Linked DNA regions of Homo sapiens. The protein of the gene in region 7 purifies or fractionates together with the protein of the main gene of each other region. This does not show direct contact. Each region holds a gene or a part of one and is shown on either strand. Other genes may lie near its edges.

What was found.
Region 1: the proteins of SLC39A12 (region 7) and APOOL purify together in Homo sapiens (affinity purification with mass spectrometry; 2 studies listed by BioGRID and IntAct, with this or other methods). This does not show direct contact.
Region 2: the proteins of SLC39A12 (region 7) and MUL1 purify together in Homo sapiens (affinity purification with mass spectrometry; 3 studies listed by BioGRID and IntAct, with this or other methods). This does not show direct contact.
Region 3: the proteins of SLC39A12 (region 7) and SLC29A1 purify together in Homo sapiens (affinity purification with mass spectrometry; 2 studies listed by BioGRID and IntAct, with this or other methods). This does not show direct contact.
Region 4: the proteins of SLC39A12 (region 7) and ADPGK purify together in Homo sapiens (co-immunoprecipitation; 3 studies listed by BioGRID and IntAct, with this or other methods). This does not show direct contact.
Region 5: the proteins of SLC39A12 (region 7) and SQLE purify together in Homo sapiens (affinity purification with mass spectrometry; 3 studies listed by BioGRID and IntAct, with this or other methods). This does not show direct contact.
Region 6: the proteins of SLC39A12 (region 7) and ACSL4 purify together in Homo sapiens (affinity purification with mass spectrometry; 3 studies listed by BioGRID and IntAct, with this or other methods). This does not show direct contact.

What each region holds. Positions count from the first base shown.
Region 1 is NC_000023.11:85,090,877-85,093,815, forward strand, and holds the end of APOOL (MICOS complex subunit MIC27 precursor), read left to right. Parts: 3' UTR 1-1,514; coding exon of another isoform or gene 1,515-1,685; 3' UTR 1,686-2,308; coding exon of another isoform or gene 2,309-2,349; 3' UTR 2,350-2,439; downstream 2,440-2,939. Other genes in the region: SATL1 (spermidine/spermine N(1)-acetyltransferase-like protein 1), read right to left, coding at 1,515-1,685, 2,309-2,349. UniProt on the Homo sapiens protein: Component of the MICOS complex, a large protein complex of the mitochondrial inner membrane that plays crucial roles in the maintenance of crista junctions, inner membrane architecture, and formation of contact sites to the outer membrane.
Region 2 is NC_000001.11:20,498,948-20,502,049, reverse strand, and holds the end of MUL1 (mitochondrial ubiquitin ligase activator of NFKB 1), read left to right. Parts: intron 1-630; coding exon 631-1,360; 3' UTR 1,361-2,602; downstream 2,603-3,102. UniProt on the Homo sapiens protein: Exhibits weak E3 ubiquitin-protein ligase activity. E3 ubiquitin ligases accept ubiquitin from an E2 ubiquitin-conjugating enzyme in the form of a thioester and then directly transfer the ubiquitin to targeted substrates.
Region 3 is NC_000006.12:44,226,595-44,230,094, reverse strand, and holds part of SLC29A1 (equilibrative nucleoside transporter 1), read right to left. Parts: intron 3,086-3,500; exon of another isoform or gene 3,056-3,085; intron 2,836-3,055; coding exon of another isoform or gene 2,782-2,835; coding exon 2,753-2,781; intron 706-2,752; coding exon 624-705; intron 507-623; coding exon 304-506; intron 189-303; coding exon 49-188; intron 1-48. UniProt on the Homo sapiens protein: Uniporter involved in the facilitative transport of nucleosides and nucleobases, and contributes to maintaining their cellular homeostasis. Functions as a Na(+)-independent transporter.
Region 4 is NC_000015.10:72,777,259-72,780,758, reverse strand, and holds part of ADPGK (ADP-dependent glucokinase isoform 4 precursor), read left to right. Parts: intron 1-544; exon of another isoform or gene 545-562; intron 563-3,500. UniProt on the Homo sapiens protein: Catalyzes the phosphorylation of D-glucose to D-glucose 6-phosphate using ADP as the phosphate donor. GDP and CDP can replace ADP, but with reduced efficiency.
Region 5 is NC_000008.11:125,008,505-125,012,004, forward strand, and holds part of SQLE (squalene monooxygenase), read left to right. Parts: intron 1-466; coding exon 467-580; intron 581-667; coding exon 668-839; intron 840-3,032; coding exon 3,033-3,128; intron 3,129-3,500. UniProt on the Homo sapiens protein: Catalyzes the stereospecific oxidation of squalene to (S)-2,3-epoxysqualene, and is considered to be a rate-limiting enzyme in steroid biosynthesis.
Region 6 is NC_000023.11:109,677,758-109,681,257, forward strand, and holds part of ACSL4 (long-chain-fatty-acid--CoA ligase 4), read right to left. Parts: intron 3,380-3,500; coding exon 3,241-3,379; intron 659-3,240; coding exon 508-658; intron 355-507; coding exon 231-354; intron 1-230. UniProt on the Homo sapiens protein: Catalyzes the conversion of long-chain fatty acids to their active form acyl-CoA for both synthesis of cellular lipids, and degradation via beta-oxidation. Preferentially activates arachidonate and eicosapentaenoate as substrates.
Region 7 is NC_000010.11:18,000,418-18,003,917, forward strand, and holds part of SLC39A12 (zinc transporter ZIP12 isoform 1 precursor), read left to right. Parts: intron 1-249; coding exon 250-408; intron 409-1,368; exon of another isoform or gene 1,369-2,753; coding exon 2,754-2,941; exon of another isoform or gene 2,942-2,979; intron 2,980-3,500. UniProt on the Homo sapiens protein: Uniporter that promotes Zn(2+) import from the extracellular space to the cytoplasm across the cell membrane. The transport activity is temperature dependent. May play a role in neurulation and neurite extension.

The DNA.
Region 1 (2,939 bases), on a different chromosome or scaffold from region 7:
TCAAGCGATCCTCCCACCTCAGCCAACCAGACATGAGTGACTGTGCTCAGCCTTTTTTAAAAAAATGAAGGTATTTGGTATGGCCGGGTATGGTGGCTCACACCTATAATCCCAGCACTTTGGGAGGCCAAGGTGGGTGAATCACCTGAGGTCAGGAGTTTGAGACCAGCCTGACCAACATAGTGAAACCCTGTCTCTACTAAAAACACGCAAAAAGTGCAAAATTAGCTAGGCGTGGTGGCTCATGCCTGTAATTCCAGCTACTTGGGAGGCTGAGGCAGGAGAATCACTTGAATCCGGGAGGTGGAGGCTGCAGTGAGCCGAGATCGTGCCATTGCACTTCAGCCTGGGCACAAGAACAAAACTCAGTCTCAAAAAATAAATAATAAAAAATAAAGGTATATAATATGTCTTAGATTTGATGAAATATGAGTGTGTTTGAGATCTGATCCAAGGTTTTAAAAAATTCATTTCAAATCCTGGAGATAAATTCTGAGGAGCTTACTTATGAAAAACTAGCAAGTGATAGCTGGTATTTACAGATATGGTACTTTACACAATTTATGTAATTAATATTTTCTCACAGACAAGGTTCCTTGTGGATATCACTGAATAATTTTTGTGTAGTTTCTATGCCCATGAAGTGCCTGGTAGGTAGTAGGAACTCACACGTTCTGCTATGCTGGTTGCAGCACAGGACACAAAAGTTAGAATTATTTCAAAGGACTTATACTCTACTAGGAAAGAGAGAAACATAGAAATATAGTGTTGTATGTGGTATCTTCCCTAAGATAAGTACAACCAAAGAGCTATGGATGTTCAGAGATAGAATGTAGTACTGGGATGATGTCAAGGAGGCAGTGGTACTTAAGCTGCTCAAGGTAGGGAAGCAGTTTACTTGCTAGTTTTTCATAAGTAAGCTCTTCAGAATTTATCTCCAGTATTTGAAATGAATTTTTTTAAACCTCAGATCTGAATATATTCAAACACCCATATTTCATCAAATCTAAGGCATATCATATACCTTTAATTTAAAAAAAAATGCTGAGCAGAGTTGCTTATGTCTGGGAGGCTGAAGTGGGAGGATTGCTTGAGGCCAAAAGTTTGAGACCAGCCTGAGCAACATAGCAAGATCCTGCCTCTAAAAACAAACAAACAAAAAATGCTGCCAGTTGATCATTACATTTATCCCGACATCAGATATGTCAAATTGTGAAAAGCACCTTAATTTTGATGAAATATGATAGGTAAAAAATAGCGCAAAGCTAAGTATAAGTGACTTTTAAATTATCTGCTCTTTTGGATTATCACTACTGCTACTAGCCGTTAGAATATTGGTTTGGATAATGGAAAGTTGACTAGAGCTACAAAATCTGTTTCAAAATAAAAGATCTGCTCAAACAAGAATGTGATGATCACTTGCTGTATTGTACAACAAAGTCAAACTGCTGTTAGACTCAGGTGACAGTCAAATGTTGGAGGCTGTGTTGGGATGAGTTGTTACAAAGCCTCTTTCATTCTTCCCATGCCATGTCCAGGAGTTCTTCTCTGTTAAACCTGAAGAGATGCCAGCCCTCCTCAGAGGAAAGGTCTAAAGCCCCTCGACTAGTATAGTAGTTGATAGAAGCCTGGTTCCAAATGACGACAAGAAAGTGCATGCAGTTACATTGAGTTGTGATGGCTATCTGTTTAAAAACAAACAAGCAAATATTACTTTCATTTGAAAGTATAATCTTCGTTAACACATATATTTTATTGAAGGTCTACTCTATGCAAGACACTATGTGTGAATAATACTTCCAAATATAGTAGTTACCTTTTGAACTTTTCTATAGCTGTAAAAAGAAAAAAGTCTCACTGTTCTGAGCTTTAAAGCCCTCTTTAAAATCTCAAAACTGATTTGCAAAGCCTTTATCATACAGAAAAGGTGTACCTAAAAGAACACATGTTCTCATATGTTTCCAAAATACAAGAAGATCTTGCTTTTATAGTCTTGTAATATTCATACTGTGAGCCTGTGTTTTTGAATAAAAATGCTTTCTAATCTCCCTCCTTCTTACTTTCCCTTGATAGCAAAAAGGGTGTATAGTGTGGTTGTGGATTATATATAAATCAATTTTAATTGACTATAATTCATATACTGTATATGATCATCTGATTTGAAAATCCAGTTTAATTTGGGTAGAAATTTGAAGTATATGTTGGGGTTATGTTCAAATGGTGAGATTAATGATTTAATTTATGCCCTGTGAATATTTATTAAGAAAAGGTTAATGTATAGAATATCAATACTAATTGTAATACATACCTGACTTAGCCTCTTCAGCATTTCAGCTCCAATACCTAGGCCTTTTAAATAGACAATGCAAAGTGAAAACTGCAAATTTCACTTAACTTGTTATTTGCTTTAGTTTAAAATAAATAATATCTAAAACTCTGTATCTGTTTTTTGTATATTATTAATAGCTTCTGGAAACACAACTCGTGAATGCTTTCATATCCCTTTTTCCTAATTGGAATGACGTACCAAAGGTCATAGAAGAGTTTGGGTTTATTTTAAAGATCAGTGAAGAAGTGAGTCTCTGCCACTATTGTCTTATAACGGTATATTTCTTAGCTGTTTTTACTGAAAACCACCTAAAATGTGAAAGCATTTTTTAAAGATAAAAGTATAGCTGTGTGGCCTATACTCACACGATGGCTCACACATGTGATGGCACGATGGCTCACACCTGTAATCCCAGCACTTTGGGAGGCCAAGGCAGGAGGATCACTTGAGCCCAGGAGTTTGAGACCAGCCTGGGCAACACAGACCCTGTTTCTCCAAAAAATAAAGAATTAGCTGGGTGCTGTGGCACATGCCTGTAGCCCCAGCTACTTGGGAGGCTGAGGTGGGAGGATTGCTTGAGTGTAGGAGGTTGAGGTTACAATGAGTCGTG
Region 2 (3,102 bases), on a different chromosome or scaffold from region 7:
TGGCCAAAACCCTTGCAGTTGGTCTATTCAAATGCTGGGGTCCTGGGTGCTGTTGCCGTGACTTCAGCTTCTCCTGAGACAGGTTGAAGCCCAGTCTCTTAATGCAGGTCATATTCTTGTGTGTAGCCTGTGGGCCTCCTATGTCGGAATCACCGAGGCATCTTGTTGAAATGCAGATTTCTGAGCTCCCTTCAGTCCCTGAAGTGGATAAGTCAGTCCCTGGTGACTTATCCAACCAGAATTTCCAGGATCAGGGACCTGGAATCTGTTGTTAGGCACACTGAAGTTTGAGAACCACTGAATCAGTGATTTCAGTATTTCCTAAAATGCTTTTGTGCCATCATATGAAATATCAGTTTTCCAACTGGTCCTAGTGAGTTTTGTTTTAGATGTTTGTTTTACAGTGGAAAGGGAAATGATAGTCTGTGGCGGTTATTTGTTGCCCACTGATATCGCCCCAGGACCTACAAATGGAGCCTCCTTGTTAGGAGGCAACTGGAGATAGTGATCTTACTGTCTTCTTCCAGTTACTTCAGACCATATGCTGTCCTCCACATTTAGTTGATCTCCAGTTCTGCCTGGGTGTTTGCTGTTTGCTACCCTGTATCTTTAGTTCTCTTATTCTTCTAGGAATGATTGCTCAAAGATCATTCATCAGAGGACCAACACAGTGCCCTTTGACCTGGTGCCCCACGAGGATGGCGTGGATGTGGCTGTGCGAGTGCTGAAGCCCCTGGACTCAGTGGATCTGGGTCTAGAGACTGTGTATGAGAAGTTCCACCCCTCGATTCAGTCCTTCACCGATGTCATCGGCCACTACATCAGCGGTGAGCGGCCCAAAGGCATCCAAGAGACCGAGGAGATGCTGAAGGTGGGGGCCACCCTCACAGGGGTTGGCGAACTGGTCCTGGACAACAACTCTGTCCGCCTGCAGCCGCCCAAACAAGGCATGCAGTACTATCTAAGCAGCCAGGACTTCGACAGCCTGCTGCAGAGGCAGGAGTCGAGCGTCAGGCTCTGGAAGGTGCTGGCGCTGGTTTTTGGCTTTGCCACATGTGCCACCCTCTTCTTCATTCTCCGGAAGCAGTATCTGCAGCGGCAGGAGCGCCTGCGCCTCAAGCAGATGCAGGAGGAGTTCCAGGAGCATGAGGCCCAGCTGCTGAGCCGAGCCAAGCCTGAGGACAGGGAGAGTCTGAAGAGCGCCTGTGTAGTGTGTCTGAGCAGCTTCAAGTCCTGCGTCTTTCTGGAGTGTGGGCACGTTTGTTCCTGCACCGAGTGCTACCGCGCCTTGCCAGAGCCCAAGAAGTGCCCTATCTGCAGACAGGCGATCACCCGGGTGATACCCCTGTACAACAGCTAATAGTTTGGAAGCCGCACAGCTTGACCTGGAAGCACCCCTGCCCCCTTTTCAGGGATTTTTATCTCGAGGCCTTTGGAGGAGCAGTGGTGGGGGTAGCTGTCACCTCCAGGTATGATTGAGGGAGGAATTGGGTAGAAACTCTCCAGACCCATGCCTCCAATGGCAGGATGCTGCCTTTCCCACCTGAGAGGGGACCCTGTCCATGTGCAGCCTCATCAGAGCCTCACCCTGGGAGGATGCCGTGGCGTCTCCTCCCAGGAGCCAGATCAGTGCGAGTGTGACTGAAAATGCCTCATCACTTAAGCACCAAAGCCAGTGATCAGCAGCTCTTCTGTTCCTGTGTCTTCTGTTTTTTTCTGGTGAATCGTTGCTTGCTGTGGACTTGGTGGAGGACTCAGAGGGGAGGAAAGGCTGGGCCCCGAGTACAACGGATGCCTTGGGTGCTGCCTCCGAAGAGACTCTGCCGCAGCTTTTCTTCTTTTTCCTCATGCCCCGGGAAACAGTCTTTCTTCAGAATTGTCAGGCTGGGCAGGTCAACTTGTGTTCCTTTCCCCTCACCTGCTTGCCTCCTTAACGCCTGCACGTGTGTGTAGAGGACAAAAGAAAGTGAAGTCAGCACATCCGCTTCTGCCCAGATGGTCGGGGCCCCGGGCAACAGATTGAAGAGAGATCATGTGAAGGGCAGTTGGTCAGGCAGGCCTCCTGGTTTCGCCACTGGCCCTGATTTGAACTCCTGCCACTTGGGAGAGCTCGGGGTGGTCCCTGGTTTTCCCTCCTGGAGAATGAGGCGCAGAGGCCTCGCCTCCTGAAGGACGCAGTGTGGATGCCACTGGCCTAGTGTCCTGGCCTCACAGCTTCCTTGCAAGGCTGTCACAAGGAAAAGCAGCCGGCTGGCACCCTGAGCATATGCCCTCTTGGGGCTCCCTCATCCAGCCCGTCGCAGCTTTGACATCTTGGTGTACTCATGTCGCTTCTCCTTGTGTTACCCCCTCCCAGTATTACCATTTGCCCCTCACCTGCCCTTGGTGAGCCTTTTAGTGCAAGACAGATGGGGCTGTTTTCCCCCACCTCTGAGTAGTTGGAGGTCACATACACAGCTCTTTTTTTATTGCCCTTTTCTGCCTCTGAATGTTCATCTCTCGTCCTCCTTTGTGCAGGCGAGGAAGGGGTGCCCTCAGGGGCCGACACTAGTATGATGCAGTGTCCAGTGTGAACAGCAGAAATTAAACATGTTGCAACCAAGTGCTAGCCTGTTGCTTTGTTAACAGGAGTTAAATGGCTAAGCCTAAGTGTCCCCAGGATGGGATTGAATCCCTGCCACAATGGAGTGAAAGGTGGGGGAGTTTGAGGCCTCTGTGTTCTTTTCCTCGGCTATAGTGGTTTGGGGCTCCCCCAGATGGGGTGATGCAGAGGCCGGCCGGGATGCCTGCCCCCTGGGGAGGAATCTGGACAGCCCACCCGTGGGTCATATCTGGCCTTGCTGACCATCTTTGAAGTCTGTCCCGACAGCCTACAAATCAGGGCAGTGAGATTTCACCTGCTGGGAGAATGGGATGGGGATGGGGTGCTGGGGGACAGCAGAGAGGAAATGAGCATTTAGCAATACTGTGTATGAGGTACTGTGCCGTGTGCTGTTTCAAACTCATTTCAGAGTGAGTTCATCCTCACAAAACCCCTGCAGGCCGAGTCCCGGTGTCTGTGCTGTACAGGTGAGGAAGTAGGCCCAGAGGGTACATTCACTG
Region 3 (3,500 bases), on a different chromosome or scaffold from region 7:
GTAGTTGGGCATGCCTCCTCCCATAGGCCCCCTCCTGGCCCAGCTTACAATTAATGAGCACGATCTTGATCATGGTGATGACAAAGAAGGGCAGAGCATCCAGCTGCACCTTCACCAGGATGGCAGTGATCAGAAACACCAGCAGGATGGCCACCAGGCTGCCCAGGATCCGTACGGACTGGGGGATCCTGCCGGGAGAGGCCAAGGGTGGCAGAGACAAGTGGGCAAAGCTGGGGCTCAGCCAAGGGGGTGCAGGACACAGTGAGGGTCAGGCTGGGGGCTGGGGAGGGGGTGGGCACTCACCTCTGATGCAGGAAGGAGTTGAGGTAGGTGAATAACAGCAGGGGCAGCATGGCACATAGGGTCATGACATTGTTGAAGATGGCACTGAGAGAGTTCCGCTCAGGCAAGGGTGCTGCAGGGGCGGCTGACGCCTGGGCGTCCTTGCTCAGTTCAGCAGTGACCAAGGACACATTCTGGGACATGTCCAGGCGGTTTGTGAAATACTGCAGGGGTTGCAGAGAGGAGTGTTGAAATCTCTTTCCCTGTGCCTACCAGCACAGAGTCAGATCCTGCAAGCACAGTGGGCACTGCCCCATGGAGCCCAGTCCCTCCAGCCTCACCTGAGTGGCCGTCATGAAAAAATTCCACGGGAGCAGCGTTCCCAGACCCAGCATGAAGAAGATAAGCCAGACAGCTTTGTATCTGCAATGGAGGAGGAAAGATGGGCCAAATGACGCACCATCCTGCCCCACTCCACAATGAGCCCCAGGAAAGCCCCTGTCCGTTGTCAGTCTCTCTAGGTCCCAGGGCACAGGGCGTCTGTGTTTGTGTCCGTTTGCATGTGTCCTCTTATGGGTGTGGGGGGAGAAAAGGGTACATTGCTCGTTGGAATTTGGGGTGGGGATGGGGTCAGGGTCATAGGACTGAATGGCATGGCTGACAGGACCATGGTTATCAGCCCTGGAAGGCTCGGGGGACTCTGCAGGCTGGGAACCAGTGTGACCCACACATCCGGAGATGGTTTTGGAAATCCTGCCGAAGGGCAGGGGGTGGGTGGATGAGTGAGAAAGCAAGCAGCAAGTGTCTTCCACTCCCACCAGGCAGGCTGGAAGTAATTATGCTGTCTGGTCAGGGACTGTGTTACTCCCCAGAGAGGATTCTGAAGTTAAGAAACTCCCATACTATTCTGGACCTACAGGGCAGGTGGGCAGGGTGCCTCAGGGCCGCTGTGAAGAGAGGGCCTTAGAGCCATTTTCTTCCTGGCCAAATAGAACTTTGTAGTTCATACCACCCAGGGCAGGCCAGGAGGTATGGGGCCACTGGAGGCCATCTGGGCCTCAGGGTGTAAATAAGGACTGTCCACCTTTGGCCAGGGCAATGCCCCAAGCCCTATACCTCAAGGCCCTTCCGGGTCACGCCAGCTTCTCCCAGATAGGCCTTGCCTGAAAGCTGAGTAACCCCAGCCCGGCCCATGTAGATCTCCAGTTGGGTTTGCACACCCTCCCCAGAGCCAACACCAGCTCTCTTCAGAGATGGCAGGGATAAAGCCCAAGGCAGTGAGAAGACAGGCCTGGCCAGAGTGCAGGAGCCTGGACCGCTGGCAGGCCTCATACAGGGATGGCGTGGTGAGCACACCACGTGAGCAGGTCCGAGTTAATGCAACTGCAGCCCCCCCAACCCCCTCACATACATGCTTCCCTTGGAGAAGCTAAAGGCTTGGTTCGGAGGCCCAGAGCAGAAGGAAAAACTCCCAAAGTCACATAGGACAGAGGATCGGGGTTGGGGGGAGTACGCTGGGAAATGACTGAGCTGTGCAATAAGGCAAATGGAGCCGGCGAGGCCTTCAGGGAACTGCCCACAGGAGAGCGGAGGTGGGGACAGAATGGGCAGGCAGCCTGGGAATGGAGCACAGGAGGCAGGGAAGCAACCTGGGGCCTGGACTTATTGCCATGCCTCCTTAAATTCCCTTACTTCTAGATCCACTTCCTGGGAAGTAGATACTTTTAGCTTATTTTACAGGTGGAAAAACAGTCCCAGAGAGATTAAGCTACATGCTCAAAGCCCCCACAGGCAAAAGTGGCCTAGTTTCATAGCCTTTGGCACAGGAGGGAGATGGGGTGGGTAGGGCAGACGTGATGGGTTTCTGGGGCCTGAGTTGGAGGGCAGGACAGAGCCTGACGCTTTGAAGGAGCTTTGGATCTCAGGGATCACTTCCTCAGCCTTCTTGGGTCCCAGATCCCTTTGAGAAATTGAATTAAGCTACAGCCTCTTCTTCCAAAATACATATTCACAGTCATAACTGCAAGTCTAACTTGACTGGGAGTTCACAGGCTCCAGAGGCAGGGAATTGAGAGGAAGATCAGATCAAGAACCAGGGTGGGCCAGGTCATCTAAGGCAGAGGCCCCAGGGCAGTTCTGCCAGATGTGCATTGGAAGGAGGGGTGCAGCCAAGTATCTCCCCACAGTGGTGGCGGGAGGAGCCGAAAGCCGCTAACTGGCTGGAGAGCAACAGTGGAAACACAGACAGGCCAGGGAAGGACTGCTGCCCACGCACCCTGCCCTTCCCGCAGACACCCCAGCCAGCACCCAGCCAAGGCACACGGGGTCCCCACCCCTGATGCAGACCTGACTCATAGCTACCTGGCTGGAAGGCCAGCCAGCAATGGCAACCCCCAATTCCAAAGGACACCACACCCAGCTCCCTGAAAACCCATTCCCTGGATCCACAGCCCAGCCCCTTACCCCTTACCTGTCCTGAGGCTGGTGACTGGTTGTCATGGTGATGGTGTTCTCGGTTTTCCCTGGCTGACAGCTCCCTCCCTCAGGGGCCTGCTGGGGGCAGGAACAGTGTGAGGCCCTGTCTTGGCCCTGCCATAGGCCTCCTCAGGCTCTTAGGGGGAGAGGGGGCAGGGCTGACAGAACAGGCCAGTGGAGGAGTCCAGTAAGACCCCCTCTGCACCCTGCCCCTCAGGACGACTCAACTTGACCCCCACCCAGCCCCCTGGCCCAGCAGGCCAGTCCTGCGCGGCCCCCCTGCCTGCTCAGACTCTACCTGGCTCCCGGCCTGGCCGCTGCCACCGCTATTTTTATCCAGCAGCCGAAGCAGTTTATAAGCTGGGAAACAGGAGGGTGGAGAGCAGGAGGGAAGGAGGAGGAAAGATGATGGGAGGGAGGGAAAGACAGTCAAAGAAGGCAGGCAAGAGGACGAGAGGGGTCAGGGACAGTGATGACAAGGGAAGGAGGGAGACAAATGGAGGAGACACAGCAAAGAGGTCGGGGGAGGAGGAGGAAGGACACGGAACAGGCAGATCTGCAGCAGCTGCGACAACATCGATGATGACTGAGGTCAAACCAGAGGCTCCCCAGGCCCCTCTCTGCAAGTCTGGTCTCTCCACCCTCCCTGGGGAGCCCCTGGATTCATGGCTAGAGTGGGGCTGTCCTCTCCTGAAGGCAACCCAGATTCCAGTCTCTCTGCTGTTGGCACCTTAACCTTTCTT
Region 4 (3,500 bases), on a different chromosome or scaffold from region 7:
CACCCAGGCTGGCGTGTGCAGTGGCATGTTCAAGCTCACTGTGGCCTTGACCTGTCATGCTCAGTGTCCCGAGTAGCTGGAACTACAGGCATGTACCACCACACCCGGCTAATTTTTATATTCTTGGTAGGGACAGGATTTGCCAAGTTGCTCAGGCTGGTCTTCAACTACTGGGATCAGGCCTTGGCCTCCCATCTTGGCCTCTGAAAGTGCTGGAATTACAGCTGTGATTCCACACCCAGCCCAGTATTAAATATCTTATAACAACTAATATGGTTAGGCTTTGTGTCCCCACTCAAATCTCATCTTGAATTGTAATCCCCATAAGCTAATCAAGGGAGAGACCAGGTGGAGGTAATTGAATCATGGGGGCGGTTCCCCCATTCTGTTCTCCTGATAGTGAGTTCGTTCTCATGAGATCCTTTGGTTTTATAAGGGGCTCTTCCCTGCTATTCACTCGGCACGGCTCCTTCCTGACACCTTAAGAAGAAGGTGCCTTGCTTCCCCTTCACCTTCCACCATGAATGTAAGTTTCCTGAGGCCTTCCCAGCCATGCTGAACTGTAAGTCAATTAAACCTCTTTCCTTTATAAATTACCCAGTCCCGGGCAATTCATTATAGCATTATGAAAATTGACTAATGCAACAACTTTATGAGGGAGGCAGATAACAGATATTGTCACCGAGTCTTCTCACATTGATTTATTTGCCCAAGATCTTGTAGCTATCAAGTGCCAGAGGAGCAATTGAAGCCTGGTCTTTCCCATTTCTGGTTCCTTGTTGATGCCATGTTGTTGCCATTAAGAGAGATTTAAGAAAAACAAGTTTCAGAAGATAAATTGGATTTCAGAGGAGGAGAAATGTACATACATTGTTATGGGATTTCAGATGAAGCTTCTCTGTCAGCTACTGAAAATGAGAAGCTGGTTTTTAGGAATATATTGAGAAACAGGATTGCAAATTTTGGAGACACTGGCACTTAGGTTGAAGCCAGAGACTGGATAGGATCACCCAGGAAGAGAAGAGGAGAAGGTAAAAATGGTAAAGGTGGAATTCTGGGAGGCACTAGCCCTTAAATGCTAGTGCATTAAGGGGCTGGTGAAAAGGGGTCAAAGAAGTAAAGGATAGGAGGAGTTTTAAGGCGTTTCTAGGAAACTTCCCCTGCTTCTAAATCAGACTCTGGTACCTATTCATTGGTTTAAAAATGATGAAACCCGGCAGGCATGGTGGCTCACGCCTGTAATCCCAGCACTTTGGGAGGCTGAGGTGGGTGGATCACCTGAGGTCAGGAGTTCGAGACCAGCTTGACCAACATGGAGAAACCCCATCTCTACTAAAAATAAAAAAATTAGGCGTGGTGATGCATTTCTGTAATCCCAGCTTCTCAGGAGGCTGAGGCAGGAGAATCGCTTCAACCCAGGAGGCAGAGGTTGCGGTGAGCCGAGATCGCGCCGTTGCATTCCAGCCTGGGCAACAAGAGTGAGACTCTATCTCAAAAAAAAAAAAAAAAAAAAACCCTCATGCTAATATTTATTGCCCCTGGAACTGGCTTCACCCTGAACCTTGAAACATATCTTGGTCTTCTCCCCTGTATGAATTCTCCATTCTAGCTAGATAATTCTTTATTGTATCCAAACACAAGGTTAATCCCTTCATGTACAACTTTGCTTGTGTATACTTCCTACGTGGGTTTCAGTATCATCAGATAAATCTGGGTTTGAATTTCAGCTCTGCCTGTCTGTGGGCTTTGGAATGTTAGTTAATCCATGGCCTCACTCTTCTCAGCTGAAAGCAGTGATGACTAATTAGCGATCTTACCGCATTTTGCAAATAGGTTTAATCTATCTGAAAATGCCTGCCTAGCGTGGGGTGCTTCTTAAAGATCAGCCGCCTTTCTTCTATCTAGATGCAGGAGCTAGGGTTCAGCACAGGGACCACTGCCCTAGCCATTTTTCCCCCGCCTCTTTACAGTTCTATGTCTTAACAATTACGATTAGCTCTTATAACAGCTGATGCACATAATGTAAAGCTAGAGAAAACCTTAGAAAACATTTTACAGGTGATGAAACAGAAGGGAGGAGATAGGAAACATCGTCTTTGCCTTAGAGGCACTTATGGTCTAGAAGGGAGAACTGTGCCCTCTTTGCCAGCCCCCCAACCCATTTTGACATTCAGCATCTGTTGTCTTGACCTATTTTCTAGTTGTTTCATCTGTGTTTTCTCCAAAATCACAGTCATCTAATATACATTTTTTACTGAAGTGTGAGCTTCTGCTTGCATGTCAGATGAGCATAATTTTGTCTTCTGATTCTTTAACTGTGTCTCCCTTTATTTCCCCTTGACAATACAGCCCCTTAGGTAATATGCTTTTTACATTTTGGGATGCTATTGAGTTGAGAAAGTGCAGAGAAAGATTCTTATTCTGGTTAAAGTATTATAAAACAGAACAAGAAAGTACATGTAAAGTACTTGTTTGGCATCCGGCATGTAGTAGATGTTCAGTGTTTTTTTGAGACAGGGTCTTGCTCTCTCACCCAGGCTGAAGAGCAGTGGTGCCATCTTGGTTCACTGCAACCTCTGCCTCCCAGGCTCAAGTGATCCTCCTGCCTCAGCTTCCTGAGTAGCTGGGGCTACAGGTGTGCACCACCACACCCAGGTAATTTTTGTATTTTTTGTAGAGACGGGGTCTTGCTATATTGCTCAGGCTGGTCTGGAACTCCTAGGCTCAAGTGATCCACCCGCCTTGGCCTCCCAAAGTGCTGGGGTTACAAGTGTGAGCCACCGTGCTCAGCCTGGTTTTTTTTAATTATAAAAAGTTATCAAGTAAACTGTGAACCAGTCTGAAAAACTGGTTATTTTCCCCCGGTATTCCTGGTATGATTAGGTGAGGGATGGAAAATGTTCCATGATAGTGATATTTTGTAACTCAAAATTAGTTCTGTTGGGTTTTGCCTTGTGTTACAAAATATACTGAACAGCTTTCCCCATTCTCATTTTAAGGAGTCAGACTGTTTAAAATCTCAGCAGTACTAGATATGGAGAGTGGGGTGTTTATAGTTTTGTTTTGTTTTGTTTTGTTTTTGAGATGGAGTCTTGCTCTGTTGCCCAGGCTGGAGTACCATGGCACGATCTCAGCTCACTGCAACCTCCACCTCCCGGGTTCAAGCGATTCTCCTGCCTCAGCCTCCCAAGTAGCTGGGATTACAGGTGTCCACCACCACACCCAGCTAATTTTTGTGTTTTCATTAGAGATGGAGTTTCACCATCTTGGCCAGGCTGGTCTCAAACTCCTGACCTCATGATCCACCTGCCTCGGTCTCCCAAAGTGCTGGGATTACAGGCTTGAGGGTGTTTATAGTTTTTGAAGTAGTTATTTTCAAAGACAGGTTTCCCTCCATTTCTGAACCTTTACTCTTCAGACTCGGGACCCAAATCCATTTGGATACAATTTTTTTAGACTGGGCTGTCTGGAGGAAATGGTATCCCTCCTTACTCAAGCCC
Region 5 (3,500 bases), on a different chromosome or scaffold from region 7:
TTTCTCTGCTCATACTGTAGTATTATAAATACATGTAGTCATTTGTACAAAAATTCTTCTAAGCCCTAGCTGCTGACTAAAAGCACTATATGAAGTTAGGAAATTTTAGAATGAAAGAATCTGGCTAGTCCCTTGAATTTGTAATGAGATTGACTGCTCTGTGTTACATGCCTGCCTTGTAGTTGTTTCCCCCATTGTCTGTCAAAGTGGAGAGTAATCCCAGATGGTTTGCATGGGAGGGCTACAAAGGGAGATGATCCTCAGGGACTCAGAGGAAGTATCTAAACACTGGTCATGCGTTATCTGAAGCCCACGTAACAGTTTCTTCAATAGTATTATCTTCAACTACTCTCTATAATGCTATCTGATAATATATCTAAATCTCTTCACGCACATTTTTTAAGAATGGCTTTTTTTACTGTGTGTTTCTGACTACTAAACTGAGTAGTCTTCATTTCTGTTATAGGAACTCCATGCTCCACTGACTGTTGTTGCAGATGGGCTTTTCTCCAAGTTCAGGAAAAGCCTGGTCTCCAATAAAGTTTCTGTATCATCTCATTTTGTTGGCTTTCTTATGAAGGTACTGTAGGAGTGTGTTATTGTAATTTCAATAAAAGAAACTTGAAATTTGAAAATTATTAAAACATTTTCTTTTTATTTGTTTTAGAATGCACCACAGTTTAAAGCAAATCATGCTGAACTTATTTTAGCTAACCCGAGTCCAGTTCTCATCTACCAGATTTCATCCAGTGAAACTCGAGTACTTGTTGACATTAGAGGAGAAATGCCAAGGAATTTAAGAGAATACATGGTTGAAAAAATTTACCCACAAATACCTGGTAAGAAATAGCATCTTCAGTTCTTACAAAGGCTGTGTCTAAAATAGGCCAGAGATAAGGATGGCAGGTGAAACATTCATCCAGTCAACCAGATATTCTGGAACTGAACTATTTAAACTAGCACTTAAAAACAGCAAAACAAACTCCCAAATTAATAAAAAAAAGTTTCGGGCCGGGCACAGTAGGTCATGCCTGTAATCCCACCACTTTGGGAGGCTGAGGTGGGCAGATCACCTGAGGTTGGGAGTTCAAGACCAGCCTGACCAACATGGAGAAACCCCGTCTCTACTAAAAATACAAAATTAGCCGAGTGTGGTGGTGCATGCCTGTAATCCCAGCTACTCAGGAGGCTGAGGCAGAAGAATCGCTTGAACGGGAGGCAGAGGTTGTAGTGAGCCGAGATCGTGCCATTGCACTCCAGCCTGGGCAACAAGAGCGAAACTCCGTCTCAAAAAAAAAAAAAAGTTTTGATATGTTTTTGTCACATAATAGCATAGTTTTTAGAATAATTGTTTTTATTGGCATATATGGTATTTTTAAAGGTAGTCTCTGGACACGAATCTGACTCTGAATTCTTTATCTCTTATACCTAAATATTTTTGTGCTTGGTTTTTGTAGTAATGACAGCTACCATTTCTTGAATGCTTACTATAAAGTGTTTAGCAAACATAATTTCATTTAATCTATGTAACCACTCTGTGAGGTAGGCATTATCATTATTCTCATTTTACAGATGGGAGAACTAAGGTTCAGAGAGATTAGTTAGCTCCTCCAAGTATAAACTATTAGTAATGGCAGAACCAGGGTTGATATCAGGTCTGTCTGGCTCATATGTGCCTGTTTGAACAGACATGTCCTGTCCGCAGAATGTGAGAATTGTAAGGGATCTTCAGGATCATGTTAGTTTTGAGTTGAATATAAAGGCTTCATGAGATTTAGATAGCTTTGTAAAAACATTAATAAAAATTACTTTTTCACAAATCTAAAGTTTTCATGGTACAGTTTTTAGGATCTTTTTTTGAGAATGGGATGATATAGGAAAGAAAAGTAAAAAAAATTTAAGAATTTTGATAAAATTGAAGGGAAACCCTCATTGTCAATTATGATATGATTAGAGTAATAGGAAACTATTTTTGGTATGAGTACATTTTGTTTAAATATTCCGTTTTTTTCAAGTTATTTTTTAAACTAAGTGAAACCACTTTAGTAACAAATTATTAACAGAAATGAAGTGAAATGAAGTGGGCAAACTTAGATTTTAAATAATGACATTTTCAACATGTACATGGAAACATTTCAATAAATTTTCATTTAGTTAAGCCACTTTTGAAGCTTTCAGATGGGGAAATTATGAATATTTATGAAAAGGGTCATCCATTACCTGATATTTTTAGCATTTATTTTTCTTTTATTGTAAATGTGGTGGTTTTTCTTTTTTTTTTCTTTTTTCCAATCCAGAGGTTAATTGGAGTAGAGTGCCCTGAAATTATGGAGAGAAACCATTGGTAGGTTTATATTAATATTAGTTAGATTACCAAAATTCTACTCCTTAATATGAATGGAATAATTTTTAACAGAGGCTTCTGCTCCTCTATTCCCAGATCACACTGGGAATTGTATGACAGTTCATTTTCTATATAAGTAGCACAGAAATTTAAAGCTTGTTTGGAAGTATCTCAGAGATGAGCTGATCAAACCATTTCATTTTTATAGATGAAGAAATTGAAGCTCAGAGAGGTAGGGCTGGCCTCGAATTCCTTTTCTAGTGTACATACCCTCCTGCTGTTTGTGAATTGGTAGTGTATTTCATCTGATTATTACAAGAATATATTGATTATAATACATTAAATATTAAATATGACAGTAGTCTGTTAACATTTGGAAGAAAGGTAGGTGGTTTTCTCCCTGTTTCATTTCATCTGAATTTGCCTCATTGTTTTTTCATTCAGTTGTATGTATGTTTATATTAATGTTCTCTTAGATTCCTTAGTCATTCCTTGGCATTAACAGCTAAGTGCTTAATGAATAATTTTATTAATGAAATAATTAGTTCTTGATTTATCACAAGGGATATATGTAACAACCATAACAGATGTATAGTAGGCATTTGTTTATACTTGATAAGAAAATATGTGATACTTTGAAATTGAAGTGTTATGACCCATTTCTTTGGGTTGGTGGGATTTATTGCAGATCACCTGAAAGAACCATTCTTAGAAGCCACTGACAATTCTCATCTGAGGTCCATGCCAGCAAGCTTCCTTCCTCCTTCATCAGTGAAGAAACGAGGTATTATTTTTTGGGCTTATTTTATAAAGGAATCAGTATTCCAAATGACAAATATATGATTAAATTTATACTGTTACGAATAACTTCTGGGACAGATAGTTTGTCACTGTGGATTAGTGCATTATTAATACCAAAATTAGTTTTATGATCTATTTAGTTGTTAACATTGAGTGTATACAAGTATTGTGCTAGTCAGGGAAACAACAGGTAAAAAACTGACCTTGACCTAGAGAAGGCAATTTTCTACTTAGGAATGTAGACAGATAATTTTACAACACTGTTGATAAATAAAACCCACAGATTCAGTGTCAAGAAGTGTGCAGAGCAGGGAGGGAAGCTTGTGAAATGGGAGGGGTAGTTAGGGAGGACGTT
Region 6 (3,500 bases), on a different chromosome or scaffold from region 7:
GTGACAGAGCAAAAGAAAAGAAAAAAAAAATAATTTTAAAATATATAGCTAAAGCAATGCTAACAAATCTACAGGGTAATCTCCTATAGCTACATATTGTTCATGGAAGCTATTTTGAGGTCAAGGAGAAAGCTTTAGCTGAATTAAAATATCTCGAGTCCTAGTAATATGTTCTCAGCCAAACCATGCAGCATCATACGATCATGCCAATATACTGAAAAGTTTGTCACCTGGTCAGAGAGTGTAAGCGGAGAAGAATATCCAATCCTGCAGCCATAGGTAAAGCAAGATATCTCTGCTGTCAGTTCTAGCACATGAGCCAAAGGCAAGTAGCCAATATATGTGTCCTTCGGTCTAAAACAAAATAAGAGAAATATTTTAACCATTCTTGAAAAGGCATTTGAAGTTAGAAATACCAAGAGCTTTATCATTTTAATATAGATTGAGTTTAGAGAATGCTGAACATGAACTCTGATTTCTAAGAAGAAAGTTAAAGAATTATCTTACCCCAGTCCAGGTATTCTTTCACACTGGCCTGTCATTCCAGCTATCAAATTGCTATGATGCATCATCACTCCCTTAGGTCGGCCAGTAGAACCACTAGTATACATAACAATGGCCATGTCTGAAGGCGTTGGTCTACTTGGAGGAATGCCCACTAAATGAATGAATGAAAAATATCACATTTACTTCAGTTCAAAAGTTAAATTACTAAAGAATAATAGGATATTTAGATTTTGCATAACGATAAGCTATCAATAGACAGTATTTGCTTTAAATCATCAAAACGAGCTGGGTGAGGTGGCTCATGCCTGTAATCCTAGTACTTTGAGAGGCCAAGGTGGGAGGATCACTTGAGCCCTGGATTTCGAGACCAGCCTGGCCAACATGGCAAGACTCTGTCGCTACAAAAACTAAAAAAGTTAGCCGGATGCAGTGGCATGCACCTGCAGTCCTTGCTACTCAAGAAGATAAGGCAGGAGGACTGGGTGAGCCTAGCAGGTTGAGGCTATGGTGAGCTATGGTCATACCATTGTGCTCCAGCCTGGGCTAGAAAACAAAAATGTTTATCAAATTCTGATTACAGTGAGCATTTTGGACTCAATTTGGCCCATTTTCTGGATGTTTAACCTAATCTCTGTCTGTGCATTGCCTCTCCACAGTGTTGTATACAGAGCAATGTTGTGGAAAGATTTCTGGGACTTTGGAGTATCAGGAGGACAGAGTATGTGTATAAACTTCTTAGGCCTCAGTTTCTCATCTCTAAAATAAGACAGCTGGACAGATTGTGGTTACTAACCACTAGTGGGTATCAGAATCACGTGCAGAACTTAAATAAAATATTATTTCTGAACCCCCTTTCTGAAAATTCAGATTCAATATGTCTGGGATAGAACAAAGCTCCACAAGTGATTCTCATATATGCCCCTGATTGAAAACCACTGGATCTGATCTTTAAGGTGACTTCAATGCTAACATTTGAAGGTGATAAGTTTTAAACAGAACCCTGGAGCTTCCACTTTCAAGACAGTGTATAGTGCTAGCCTAGTAACCACTTTTCCTTCCGAGAATATACCAAAATGGCTAAGAAGCCACATATATATCATCAGAATGAAATACAAGTTTAACAGGATTATCACATTTAAAAATCTTTACACAAATTATTTACATTTTTATATACCAGTTAAAATAACATTTTTTTAAAACAGTGAGCTATACCACTGAAACAAAGATAGTTACACTTAAACTGGCTAATTTTAATGCTTTTTAAAGATATAGTCATAGTTTATAAACCAAGCAAATAAGGACTGCATATTTCCTCTGATGATTAACCAAAGCAACAGCAGTAGCTAAATTCTTCTTAATCTAAGCACATGTGATACTTTGCTTCTGCCCACTTTTAAGTAAATATGCAAAAAAGTGGCATCACAATAACTGTCTGTACCACAAAAACATATGTATCCTATCTATTGCAGACATGAGTAGAACTAAGTGGGATATGTGGCCTATTACATTATTGCTCACACAAAATTATGAAGACTGCTGACCCCTTAGCTTGCTGCCAACACCCTTTGTGGTCAATCAGCAGAACTGTAACTGATCCCTACCAATCAGGACTTCTCAGTCAAGTTTATCCCAATCTTACAGGGTCAACCTAGTGTAGAAAAACAATTCTCTATGGGTCTCATGTTCTGCACATCTTGCAAGCAGAGACATTGACTTTGTTCCAGACTATCTTTACAAGGATATTTGCACAGAGATAGTGTCTCTCCCCAGAGCAAACAGCAGGCATGCTTACTGTCCAGTACAATAAGATAATAAGATATTCAGGCTCTTTAAGCTCAGAGTTCCTCTCTTATGACACAAATGCTGATATGATACTCTGGCTACTGCTATTGTTGTGAGTAAAAAACTGTCCCTCATCTCAGACCCAAAAGTCTATGGCACCAGGAAGTTTTGCAGGCTCATCTGTTTGCCGGCAAGCAGGGTAAAATCTGACTCTCTGCCATTCTGGACACATGGCAGATGTGTATAATAACACCTGTTATTATAAACGCATGCTCATTCTCTAATGGTAAAATGTTCAGAAGCTGAGTAGAGGTTCGACCAACATTTTCTCCTGCAAAAATGAATCCTTTTCTCATTATAGTATGGTATTTTGACCATCGCATTAAACATAATAAGAAAACTCTTCAAATGGAGTATTAATTTCCTCAACTCTCTGCCCTGATGGCCAACTGACATTTTGCTACAAGGTACACTTACTTGTTTCAAATGAAATACCAACTACCACCTCAGTGGTAAAATAAATCCAAGCATTAATCTTGGTAAACAGCTTTGCATCCTCTGAAACATCCTTAAGATAACTAGCATTAAGCATTTATTTCAGAAAGTTTACTGAATGGAAGGCCTGAAATATTTTTCTTTTATGAGGCCCAAATTGGAAGGTTATAGTGGGTTATTTAAAAAATGAAGAAACATTTGGCAGCAACTGCCATGAAGTCTGAACCACAGATTACATCTCAACCACTTAGTGAAATTTACTAACTTATTTTTTTTGAGGAGAAATGGAGGGAAAATCTTAATCATATATGGTCTTGATGGTTTTTAAAGATTTTTGAACTTTTTTTTTTCAGTCAAAGAACTTTTGTGGATTTACTCATGTCATTTGTTTCCCTAACCTACCAAAATAACAAACTTGGAATAGGTAAATAAAATTGTTTTTACTGCTTTACTTACAGTTTTCTGGGTTAGATCCCAACTCTTCTACTGATTGCATGCTGTGAATCTCAAATCCTTCAGGGTACTCTGCTTTATTGATAGCCTTATTGTCCACATAAATGATATGTTTAACACAACTGATATCTAACAATGCAGTCTGTTGAGCAGAAAGAAAAAAAAACAGCTATTAAACTTAAGCCTGCAACAAAAATTCACTTACTGAATGAATATTTTTCTGTCCTGCCAGACAACGCAACCATGAATTAAAAGAAAATTTC
Region 7 (3,500 bases):
AAATCATTTATGCCAGCATGTAATTTATCTCATTAGACCAGTTAGCAAAACAGTGACCATACGTTTAAGTGTGTTGGTTATCACACTTGAATCTCTAGTCCTGACTTTTGCGGAAACAAAGTGATGTTATTTAATCAGATGGAATATAAGAATGTCAAGTGTAGGTGGGAAGGTTGGTTGGTTTTGAAGGATTTGGTGAAATATGTAGTGCTCTGTTAATGCTTCTTCTGTGTTTATTTGGTTCCTTAGGTAAAGCCATTAGCTTGTTAGCAATCATGATTCTGGTTGGGGACAGCCTGCATAATTTTGCAGATGGCCTAGCCATAGGAGCAGCCTTCTCATCATCATCCGAGTCAGGAGTGACCACTACGATTGCTATCTTGTGTCATGAAATCCCACATGAAATGGGTAAGTTCAACAATGGAATTACTGTTTCTGGCCTGTTGAGAAAGAAATAACATCTTTCCAGCTATGGTTTACTAGGATTCTTTTTCTAACCTATGACTTAAAGATGAATACTTTCCTTTTATAATTTATTTAAACCATAAGAAGAGGAGGACTAGAAAAATAACTCCTGTACCTTGGAATAAAATCCAGTTAAACTCCTTTATGATGTTTCCCAGGGCCAGAAATGACTCTATTTGGATTCCAGAGAATTCCATATGGGAGACAGTCATTCAGAGAAATATTTTAAAGAATTTTGATGGGGACTTTAAAATCTGCATATTAAATGTGAGAAAAATATTAGGAGGGGAACTTTATCCATCATGTCAGCACATGGGCCAGTAAGATAAAATAACATTTAAATTAAAACCGGCCGGGCGCAGTGGCTCACACCTGTAATCCCAGCACTTTGGGAGGCCGAGGCATGTGGATCACCTGAGGACAGGAGTTCAAGACCAGCCTGACCAACAGGGTAAAACCCCGTCTCTATTAAAAACAAAAACTTAGCCAGGTGTGGTGGCCCAGGCCTGTAACCCCAGCTACTTGGGAGGCTGAGGTGGGAGAATCGCTTGAACCCAGGAGGTGGAGGTTGCAGTGAGCTGAGACTGAGCCATTGCACTCCAGCCTGGGCAACAGAGTGAGACTCCATCTCAAAAAGAAAAACAAAAACAAAAACAAAAAACCAAACCATGGTTTCATCAACCTGACTTATACAAAATGTTTAAAGCCAAGCCTAGCATTGAAATGACAGGTGTGTGGTGGCAGATTCTCATAAATCTCTTTTTCTGGATAATCTTAGTTGCCCTGTAACTTTTTTTCTTTTAATTTTTGTGGGTACATAGTGGTTGTATGTATTAATGGAGTACATGCGATGTTTTGATACAGGTATGTAATGCGTAAGAATCATATCATGCAAAATTGGGTATCCATCCCCTCAAGCATTTATTGTTTGTGTTACAAACTATCCAATTATACTCTTTTAGTTATTTTTAAATGTACAAATTAAATTATGATGACTGTAGTCGTCCTGTTGTGCTATCAAATACTAGGTCTTATTCATTCTATTTTTTTTTTTTTTTTTGTAGTGATTAACCATCTTTACCTCACCTCCACCTTCCCCTACCACCCCACTACCCTTCCCAGCCTCTGGTAACCTTCTTCTATTCTTTAACTCCATGAATTCAATTGTTTTGATTTTTAGATCCCACAAATAAGTGAGAACAATATAGCCCTGTTCTTTGCCTCCCAGGACGCAAGATGGGTTAGAACAGACGTTTCTGAAACAGACCCAGAAATAGTAGAGGCTGGTCTGGCATAGGCTCCCAAGGGAGAGGGCTCTTCGCAGTCTCTCTGCTTCCACTTTCGCACCTACATTGCCCCTAGGAAACGCTTGCCCTCTTGTGCTTGGAGTCCGTTGCTCAAAGTCCTGACACTGACTCATTATTGACCTATCCTTCTTGGAGCAGTTTATCCAAGGTCCTCCCTGGGCTCATTAAAGTGCACCTGGTCTGGAAGCCATCCCCTATCTGTGGTCCTGAGTTTTGCTACTGTAACAGGGATGTAGCCCCCAGTCCTCAACCCAAAGCCACAGGGCAGTGTGACCGTCTGCAGCAGGCCAGCAGAGATGTTTCAAGCCCCGTTCATGGGAACAATTATGCAATGGAACTAGAAAACTGGGTCCCCAAGCTGTCTATTGAATTTTAGTCTCAATCCCCCAAACTAAGAAGTAGATGTTCTCAGATTTACTAACAGGTCAATCTTCTCTTGGAGGGAAGGCATGGAGAGAATGAGATCATTTTCCTATAATCATTTTCTAAAGGGAAAAATTTGTTTCCTAACCAACTTTTACAATGCTTTAAAAATCTCATATTAAGTAGTTTTCTCTCCCCACAGCAGTTTCTGCATAAGTAAATAATAAAAGCCCATATAGTGTCATGATTTCACCTGGCAAATTTCCAGGCCCAAAGATTTAGAAACCCTGGGACAGTGAGTGACTATTTTCCATTTATCTAAGTTGGAAATGTCAGAGGATATCAAGAACTCAAGAATATGTCACAGACCTCTCTGTAGATACAATCTTTAGGAGCAGCCAAAGGAATGGAACTCTTGAAATGCAACTTCCTAATAGTACGATGAATGGGCTATGAATTCTAGAGAAATATAGGAAAGCATTTTATTTACTGATCACTCAACTCTACCTATAAAATTGGTTCCAGTGCTGACATTCGAAATAGCTAATAGTGCGTTACTTTAGCAAAGGCGTCTTCCATTAAATGATAATTATATTTTCCTTTCCTCTTAAACTTCAGGAGACTTTGCCGTGCTCTTAAGCTCTGGACTTTCTATGAAGACTGCCATCCTGATGAATTTTATAAGCTCCCTAACTGCCTTCATGGGATTATACATTGGCCTTTCCGTGTCAGCTGATCCATGTGTTCAAGACTGGATCTTCACAGTCACTGCTGGGATGTTCTTATATTTATCCTTGGTTGAAATGGTAAGCTTGGTGGCTTTTCTATTTGATTTTTCTAAGCACTGAAAATGTAAAACAGAGAAAAAAAACAGTAAAAATGGAAGGATAAATGAGTAGAACAGAAGAATTTATAAAACAATATAAACCATTAAGGAATATTCTTTGTACTCCAAGAAAGTGCATTCTGGGCAGAAAGAACATAATTTGGGTACAGAAAATACTGACATTTTCTGTAGTGTTAAAGTGACAGGTGTGTGATAGCAGTTGCATGTAAGACTTTTTTCTTTTAGTGATTTTAAGTGGAAAGAATGAAATGTTCATAATCTTCAAAAAGTAATCATCAGCTCATTCGATTCCAGCTTTGTACCTATATATGATGCCTGTATTTCCAGTTGAAAATGAAAAGTTCTGTCAATCAGCCAGCTATTTTATTTATACAATGCGAAAGTTCTGTTAAATAGCCAGCTATTTTATTTATACAATGGAAAATAATTCAACTGAATTTGTCATTGAATTAAATCACTGTTTGACTTAATTAACCAAATGTGTTTTTTAAATAATGATTACGTCTTTGAAGTTTGAA